Linked DNA regions of Homo sapiens: regions 1 and 2 are each linked to region 3. Evidence: fine-mapped expression QTL. A gene starts in region 3. Each other region holds a variant in brackets. All regions are shown on one strand. Distances are between the middles of the regions.

What was found.
Region 1: its variant is fine-mapped to the expression of AUP1 in gastroesophageal junction (GTEx, PIP above 0.99).
Region 2: its variant is fine-mapped to the expression of AUP1 in cerebellum (GTEx, PIP above 0.99). The same link has a PIP of 0.9 or more in caudate, prefrontal cortex, spinal cord, tibial artery and unexposed skin.

What each region holds. Positions count from the first base shown.
Region 1 is chr2:74,729,656-74,732,414 of GRCh38, reverse strand. All of the region lies in intron 2 of LOC102724497 (a long non-coding RNA gene), which reads right to left. Among named protein-coding and RNA genes, the nearest start is that of SEMA4F, 77 kb to the right of the region's middle. The variant T/C (reference allele first, on the strand shown) is at 1,669.
Region 2 is chr2:74,714,499-74,717,257 of GRCh38, reverse strand. It overlaps LOC102724497 (a long non-coding RNA gene), which reads right to left and starts at 1,959. Exons shown (of 3, transcript XR_427047.5): 1 at 1,883-1,959. RefSeq lists a silencer at 1,573-1,832. The variant G/A (reference allele first, on the strand shown) is at 1,671.
Region 3 is chr2:74,528,068-74,530,826 of GRCh38, reverse strand. AUP1 (AUP1 lipid droplet regulating VLDL assembly factor) reads left to right here and starts at 1,121. Exons shown (of 12, transcript NM_181575.5): 1 at 1,121-1,247; 2 at 1,328-1,465; 3 at 1,545-1,695; 4 at 1,892-2,076; 5 at 2,338-2,410; 6 at 2,506-2,579. The coding sequence starts at 1,198. HTRA2 (HtrA serine peptidase 2) reads right to left here and starts at 894. Exons shown (of 8, transcript NM_013247.5): 1 at 315-894; 2 at 6-210. The coding sequence starts at 820. RefSeq lists enhancers at 8-87, 118-187, 208-337, 793-1,675, 848-1,677 and a silencer at 728-817.

The DNA of each region.
Region 1 (2,759 bases), 200 kb before region 3:
CAGGCACCCCCACCAAAAATATTTAGGAAGCTCTGCAGAGAGGAAAAAAGCTATTCGATCAAGGATCTGGGATTATTTCTACTTTGAAACTACTCATTATTAGAAATAACTACAGAGTTCTAGAGACAGAGATTAAGAAATAAAGTCCTGCAAAGATATATTTGTTACTCTGCTTTCTTAAGAACTTATGGGAATTACACATTAATGTTTTGTTTTTGGTTTTGTTTTTCCCCTGCATAAATGCCTCTGTTTTGGTTTCTGCTTCTCAGCTTCTGAATGTCACCCACCAAGAAGCTGTGAGCTGGATGCTCCACAGATATGATATACAGAGCCTTCCCTGCTGGCCTTTTTCCTTCCATCTGGAGATCAGCCCGGGTCCATAGGTAAATCACATCTTCCTACCTAATAATGACCAACTGCTAAAACCCAGGTAAGAGTACAAGGCTTGGAATTGGGGAAAGGGAAAAGGCAGCATTTTATCAGCTGATTCAATTTTTTGTTTGTTTTAAAGGCTTTTTAAAAATAAACTTATTTTGGAATAATTTTAGAAAAATTACAGAAAAGTTGCAAAGATAATACAGAGAATTATCATATACCCCTCACCTAGTTTCCCCTAATGTTACCATCTTATATTACATGGTACACTTGCTAAAACTAAAAAAAAAAAAAAAAAAAAAGGGTACATTATGATTAACTAGCCTTTATTCAGATTTCACCAGTTTTTCCACTAACATTCTTTTTCTGTTCCAATTCAGGAAATCACATTGCATTTTGTGATTTATAATTTTTAAGTTTAAGCTCTATTTTTACAAAAGTTAACATGTCCACAATTGAAAAAGGAAATGATCATACATGACTTATGAAAGGCAATCTTCTGCCCAAACCCTCCTTGCTTCTAATTTTCTCCTTCCAACAGCAAACAATTTCAACTTTCTCACTTTTTTCACCCTCTCTCCCTCGGTCCAGCCACACTGTTCTCTGAACATTCCTCAAGTATGCCAAGCCTATTCACATTTAAGGCCAAATCTTTGCTCAAGTTTTCTCTTTGTCATGTCTTCTTCCCAATAAAGTCTACCCAGACAGACCACTCTATTTAAAATTGTGGAGACTTCTGGTTCTGAAATGGCAGAACCAGAAACGAGTGTAGAAACAAGCTGGTGTAGAAACAAGCTGGCTTCACTCACCCCAAAGAAAACCAAGATCAAATATACAGTGCTGAGATTATCACTAGCAATAAATTATAACTCAAATATGAAGATGAGAAAGTTCTCCTGGCCTCAGAGAAGCGAAAAAAACTCCAAGCAGATGGTAAGAGACTTGGACTTCCATATCTGTGACACCCCTTTCCCCAGTCTGCCTAGCACAAAATGCATAGAAAATTTCCCCTGACGCATGGTTTCTACACTGGAAAAAGTGAGTTGGGGTGGACAACCAGCTTGCCCACCCTCTTGGTTCTCTGTCAGGAGACCTGTCCCTGCCTCAAACCACAGGATGCACTGGGAGTGCTTGAAAGGAGAAATCACCCTAAGGAAACTGAGGAGGCAGGACTACCATCTCCAGCTGTGAAAACTGCTCTCAGCCAAAGAAGACACCAAATTAGAGCAGCACCACACTGTAGGTTTGTTCCACATATCCTTGGGCATAAACTCTTAACCAGCCTTTCGATAT[T/C]ACCAGGATATTCCCCCTTGAGACCTACCCCATTCAGTACTGGTGGTACTCTGGTTGTTTAATAGAACCAGGGCAAACCCGGGCTTAAGGCACCATTTAGTGCCAAAAAGGAGGCAGCAACCTAGCAGTGGAACATAAGAAAGAAAATCAACTGATAAATTACAAAGAATCTCTAAGCAAACATACCCAATAAAAACCAAAACAAGCCAGACAAAGAAGACTGGAATAACTAATCCTTCAATGCAAAAACATAGACATACATCCACAAGAAACGGCAGCCAGTAGAGTGCTATGACTGCCTCAAATGAACAAAGCAAGGAACCAGTAACTGACCCTAACAAGATGGTGATATATAAACTCTCTGACCAAGAATTCAAAATGGCAGTTTTAAGGAAACTCAGTAATTTCCAAGATAACATGGAAAAGCAATTCCAAAATTTGTCAGAGAAATTTAACAAAGATATTGAAGCAGTTTTTTAAAACACAAATCTTGCGGCTGGGTGCAGTGGCTCACACCTGTAATCCCAGCAGTTTGGGAGGCCGAGGCAGAAGGATCACTTGAAGCCAGGAGTTTGAGACCAGCCTGGCCAACATGGTGAAACCCCATCTCTACTAAAAATACAAAAATTAGCTGGGCATGGTGACGCATGCCTGTAATCCCAGTTATTCAGTTGGCTAAGGCATGAGAATTGCTTGAACCTAGAAGGCGGAGATTGCAATGAGCCAAGATTGCACTGCTGCACTACAGCCTGGGCAACAGAGTGAGACTCTGTCTCAAAATTTAAAAATAAAATAAAATAAAGTATAAAAAATCACAAATCTTGAAACAGAAATACGTTTACTGAACTGAAAAATTCATTAGAGGCTCTCAACAGCAGAATGGATTAAGCAGAAGTAAGAATCAATGAGCTCAAAGACAGGCTATTTGAAAATACACAGAGGAGAAATGAGGAGAAAAAAAAGAATGAAAAGAAATACAGGTCACCTACAAAATATACAAAACTACCTCAAAAGACCAAATCTCTTTTTTTTTTTTTTTTTTTTTTTGAGATGGAGTCTCACTCTGTCGCCCAGGCTGGAGTGCAGTGGTA
Region 2 (2,759 bases), 190 kb before region 3:
TAATGGAAAGATTGAGTGGATGACATTTCCTGTTTCTCATCAATAAAGTTTCATCTTCATACTCAACTGTTAAATATTTATTGTCTCTTTTTAATACATCTTATTAAGCCTAGGATTAATCAATATGGTTCCTGTTCTCTCAAAGCTCACAGCTAGTTCAGATTATACTTTCAGAAAGTAGAATGAAAACAAGTCAGGGCAATATTTAACAATGTGTTTAATCAACTATAATCAAATTTCATAATGTATAATCTAGACAGTCATTCCCGGGTGGTCAATCTAGGGAGGAGTCTGTAGGAATTAGAAGGTGAGATGGGGAGGGGCAGAGGCAGAAATCTTCACCAGAAGGTTGAGCAGACAGAAAGGCAGTTGAATTCAGGTCAGGAAAGTAGGAGGAAAAATAATTTTACAGGAGAATAATCATACCTGCTTTCATGGAGGTGGGGGGCAAGTGGGACGGAGTGTAAACTAAGAGGAGTGTGTCATCTACTTAGTTAATGACTCTTTGTCTTGCAGTACTGGTGGAGGACAATGGACACCAGCTACATTGTTCACAAGTGGTAATTATCATGACTACAAACACCAGGGATTAATACTTACCTATCGAAGACCATATGAGTAATGGGTGTCTCCCAAGCCTGTAACTGAAAGCACCTTCTAGACTCTAAGGCCCTACTCAGGTGCTGCTTTCTCTATTATACAACTTCTATTCCTGGAAAATCAATGTTGATTAAAGAAGTTTCTGGCCAGGCATGGTGGCTCATGCCTGTAATCCCAGCACTTTGGGAGGCTGAGGCGGGCAGATCACCTGAGGCCAGGAGTTCGAGATCAGCCTGGCTAACATGGCGAAACCCTGTCTCTACTAAAAATACCAAAAAAAAAAAAAAAAACTAGCCAGGCGTGGTGGTGGGCTCTTGTAATCCCAGCTACTCGGGAGGCTGAGGCATGAGAATCACTTGAACCCGGGAAGCGGAGGTTGCAGTGAGCCGAGATTACGCCACTGCACTCCAGACTGGGTGATGGAGTGAGACTCTGTCTTAACAATAAATAAATAAACTTTCCTGAGTTTTTGCTTTTTCTATTTTGAGGCTCCCAATTGCTGTTCAGGTTAATAAGGTCACAGCTCCATGCTTCACCTAAGAGAAGAGGGTTTACCAGGAAGTCCGACTTGCCTCTTAGCCACAGATGGTTGTAAGGCATGAGCCGATTGTGAGTTGAGGTGTAATTTAAATAATCCTAGAAAGAAACGCACATGTCTGAAATTACACCCTTATATCTCATGAAGTTGTATCCAGTTCCCTTCCTAACAAATCCAAGCATTCCTGACGAAGGACACAGAAAAGTCTCTAATCTTTTGGCTTGAATGTGATTAGCATCCTTTAAGAGGAGGAGAGAAGGCATGGAACGAGACGGAGGAGGACAGGTCCCTGAGCAGGAAAGGTGAGGGACAAAATAACCCGCACCCTGTCAGGTCTAAAGAAGCCTCCTGTCCCTCGCCTGCAGACCTGGGTCGGATTCCTCTGCTCCCACAGGGGACAGCAGTACGGGGGAAGGCAGCTTGGTGGAGTCCGCAGGCGTCCCCCGCTTGGAGGTGCAGCGCGGAGCTCGCAGTCCCCAGGCGGGAGAGCGCGGGAGGGCGGCCGGCGGGCTCAGGTCCTCGGTGGCGGGGG[G/A]GGTGCAGCCATGTAAGGCCTTACGAAATGTGCAGAGCCGGCCCTGGCGCCGGCAGTACGGCTGCGGAGGGACGGACACCCACGCGAAAGACCGCCCCAGGCCCTGCCAGCCGCGGACTGCGGAGGCTTCCGCACAGGCGGGCAAACCGCGCTGCGTCCGCCCCGCCCCGGCCTGCCCTGAGCCGCGGGGCTCCAGGGCCCACGACGCTTACTTAGGTGGAGTTTCCAGTTGAGCTCGGCTCGAGGGTTTAAATGGATGATGTGTTCCATCCGAAGTCGGAGTTCATGTGATCTTACTTTTGTGTCTAACTCCGTTCTCACCTCTATCCCTAAATTACTCTCTTCGGCTCCCACCCCTGAGCGCCCTCGCCTGACAGCGATCGGCACTCGTGCTGCCACCTGCAGGTGAAAGAGGAAATTGAGCGAACTCAAGTTGGGCGGCCCACTGCTGGAGGAGGGCTTTCAGGACAGGGTAGCGGATATTCCAGATTACTGGAAATCCTGGAATTACTAAGATTTAGATATATTACGCCCAAAGAGCACAACAATTGGCAAGAGACTTGATATAGCCTTCACATCCTCTGGAGGTTTTCCTTTGGTTTGTTTTTCCATTATGCGGATTTGGCAGGGGATGGATGATAAATATTTGCACGAATGCAATTTAGGGCTGTAAAACATATGTTCGCCACCAGGTCTTGTAATCGATGCACATCGGGCAGAGCTGGTTTTTTTTTTACCAGCGCCACCTCCATGATGTTACTGTGATTTCCATCATGGCAGGCTCTGCCCTGCCTATATTGCTCAGAAAGGGCCTTGTGCCATGACCAGTGGTCATACCTGGGTCATTCCTAGCCTGGCGGGTTACCCCATTACAATGTTCTCTGTGCCATAGCAAGTCTTTTTTCACGCATTCCGATACCATGATTTTGAAAATGAATGATTGTTTTTAAAATCATTTTAGAATAATTCCATTAGCATTGTGGTTGAAGCGCCCTGGAGTCAGGCTGCCTGAGTTTGAACCTGACTCCAGTTTACTTACTTGGTGACCTTGAGAAAGTTATTTATTCTCTCTGTGACTTAGTTTCCTCA
Region 3 (2,759 bases):
CCCACCTTAGTCTGAATCCTCAGCGTTGCGATGTCTGCCACGGGATCCACAGCTGTGACCACGGCCTCATACGTGTCGCCGCTTAGCAGTCTCACACGGACTCTGCGCCGATCAGCCACCACATGGGCGTTGGTGACAATGAGCCCATCGGCAGCCACCACGAATCCTGAGCCGTTCGAGATAGGGACCTCGCGGCCCAAGAAAGGGTGCCTGAAATGGAGGGAAAGCACAGATAAGAGGAGGCTCTGACCCCTCCTACCCGCCCGCCCTCCAGCCTGTGGCTTCAGTGCCTCCCGGTCTACCCCCACCATTACCGGTCCAGGATCTCGATATAGACCACGGCAGGTGCTGTCTTCTCCACCACATCTGCGATGAAGTTGTACTGACTCCGGGGAGAAGCGGGCGGCGGGCTAGGGACGGCGGCGAGGACGGCCGGAGGACCCCGACCCCCGCCCCACAACAACAACAGCACTGCCCCCCCAGCGCCCAGCGCCACCGCCAGCCACGCGCGCGAACGGGTTCCAGAGTTCTCTGAGGCCTCCCGGGTCCTGGTATCTGGGGTCACCGCAGTCAGTTGTGCCCGGGGACCCGGGGTCCCAGACGTCAGGCATGCTCGGGGTTCAGTGACCCCAACAGACAACCGGGCCCAGAGACTGGGGGTCCCATAAGTCACTCGGGCCCGGGGGTCAGAAGTTCCTGACGTCAGCAGGGCCCGGAGGTCAGGGGTCAAACGGGGTCTCCTCCCCCAGCGAATGCCCCCCAAAGCCCGCCATGCCCGAAGGCTCCAGCCTGCACCCCGCCCCGCCCTCGGCGCAGCCATCAGCTCCGCCTTGGCTGCCTCCTCGCCCGCCCTACTCAGAGGCGGCACCCAGGACGCGAGCAGGCGGACAGTAGGACGCGGGGCACGCCGGTACCTGAAGTCCTTCAGAAGTGCACGCCGGGACCAGGATTCCGGGAGGCCGACTCCTCCCTGCCCCACGAATGCCGGGAATTGTGGTCTCCGCCGGACGCGAGTTGTGAGACGGCCCAAGGGGCCGCGGGGTATGCTGGGACCGCTAGCCCTTCCGGCGCGCCTCAGGACTTCGGGTCCCCTCACCCCGGGCGGATGCCCAAAGACTCCGCCTTCCCAAGAGCCCCTGCGGCCGGGCGCGAAAATGGCGGCGGCGGCGACGGCCGGGCGCTCCTGAAGCAGCAGTTATGGAGCTTCCCTCAGGGCCGGGGCCGGAGCGGCTCTTTGACTCGCACCGGTAAGAGACCCGGCGGGAAGAGACCGATCCCCGCGTGCTCTCGGCCTTCGGCGCCTGACCACTTCGCCTCTCGCCCCCAGGCTTCCGGGTGACTGCTTCCTACTGCTCGTGCTGCTGCTCTACGCGCCAGTCGGGTTCTGCCTCCTCGTCCTGCGCCTCTTTCTCGGGATCCACGTCTTCCTGGTCAGCTGCGCGCTGCCAGACAGCGTCCTTCGCAGGTTCCGACGCGGGCGTTCGGGGAGTGTCAGAGCTGGGTCTGGCCCGAGGCCACACAGTCACCACCTCCTGTGTCCCCAGATTCGTAGTGCGGACCATGTGTGCGGTGCTAGGGCTCGTGGCCCGGCAGGAGGACTCCGGACTCCGGGATCACAGTGTCAGGGTCCTCATTTCCAACCATGTGACACCTTTCGACCACAACATAGTCAATTTGCTTACCACCTGTAGCACCGTGAGTGAGAGCGAGGCCGAGAGCGCCACGGGGCGGTTCCCTGGGGCCCAGCTGAAGGCCCCCCTGTCCCCACTCGCGTTCCCCATGGAGGATACTGAGCCTTACCCCTAACCCCGATCCTCTACCCAACATGTCAGTTTTTTTTTTCATTTTCCTCAATATTTTTCTTCTTGCTTTCTCTTCTCCTGGTTCCCAGCCTCTACTCAATAGTCCCCCCAGCTTTGTGTGCTGGTCTCGGGGCTTCATGGAGATGAATGGGCGGGGGGAGTTGGTGGAGTCACTCAAGAGATTCTGTGCTTCCACGAGGCTTCCCCCCACTCCTCTGCTGCTATTCCCTGAGGAAGAGGCCACCAATGGCCGGGAGGGGCTCCTGCGCTTCAGGTGGGTTTAGCACAGGTATGGGGCGCCAGCTGGGTAGGTGGTCAAGCTTGTGGGCCCTTGAGTTTTTACAACTTTCTTCGGCCCTTAGACCCCATCATCTCCAGTTCATTTCCTTTCTGTCCACTTTAAGTTCTTTCTCCTGAATCCCTTCATTCTTCAATTATGTGCTTGTAGAGTTTGACAGTTGCCTGTTATAAGGCAGGTGTGAGCTGCTGACTAGGCTGGCTGGATTCCCATCCTACTTTCTCCTTCCTCTTCTAGTTCCTGGCCATTTTCTATCCAAGATGTGGTACAACCTCTTACCCTGCAAGTTCAGAGACCCCTGGTCTCTGTGGTGAGTGTGTGTTGAACAGGGAATCTCTGGGGCTTGAAGGGGAAATTTCCCATCCCTGGCCCTGGCTTAGGCCTCATCTCATGCCCTCCCCTCAGACGGTGTCAGATGCCTCCTGGGTCTCAGAACTGCTGTGGTCACTTTTCGTCCCTTTCACGGTGTATCAAGTAAGGTATTAACTGTCCTCACATTTTGGTCGCTGGGGAGAGGCTCACCTCAAGGTCAAGGAATTAGTGGCCTCTGCCCTGTCCATTTGTAGATCTTTATATCAAGGTTCTACCACAGAGGCAACACAAAGTATTTACAGTATTTACTATTTTCCCACCCACCATGCAAAGAGGTACCAAAGTGG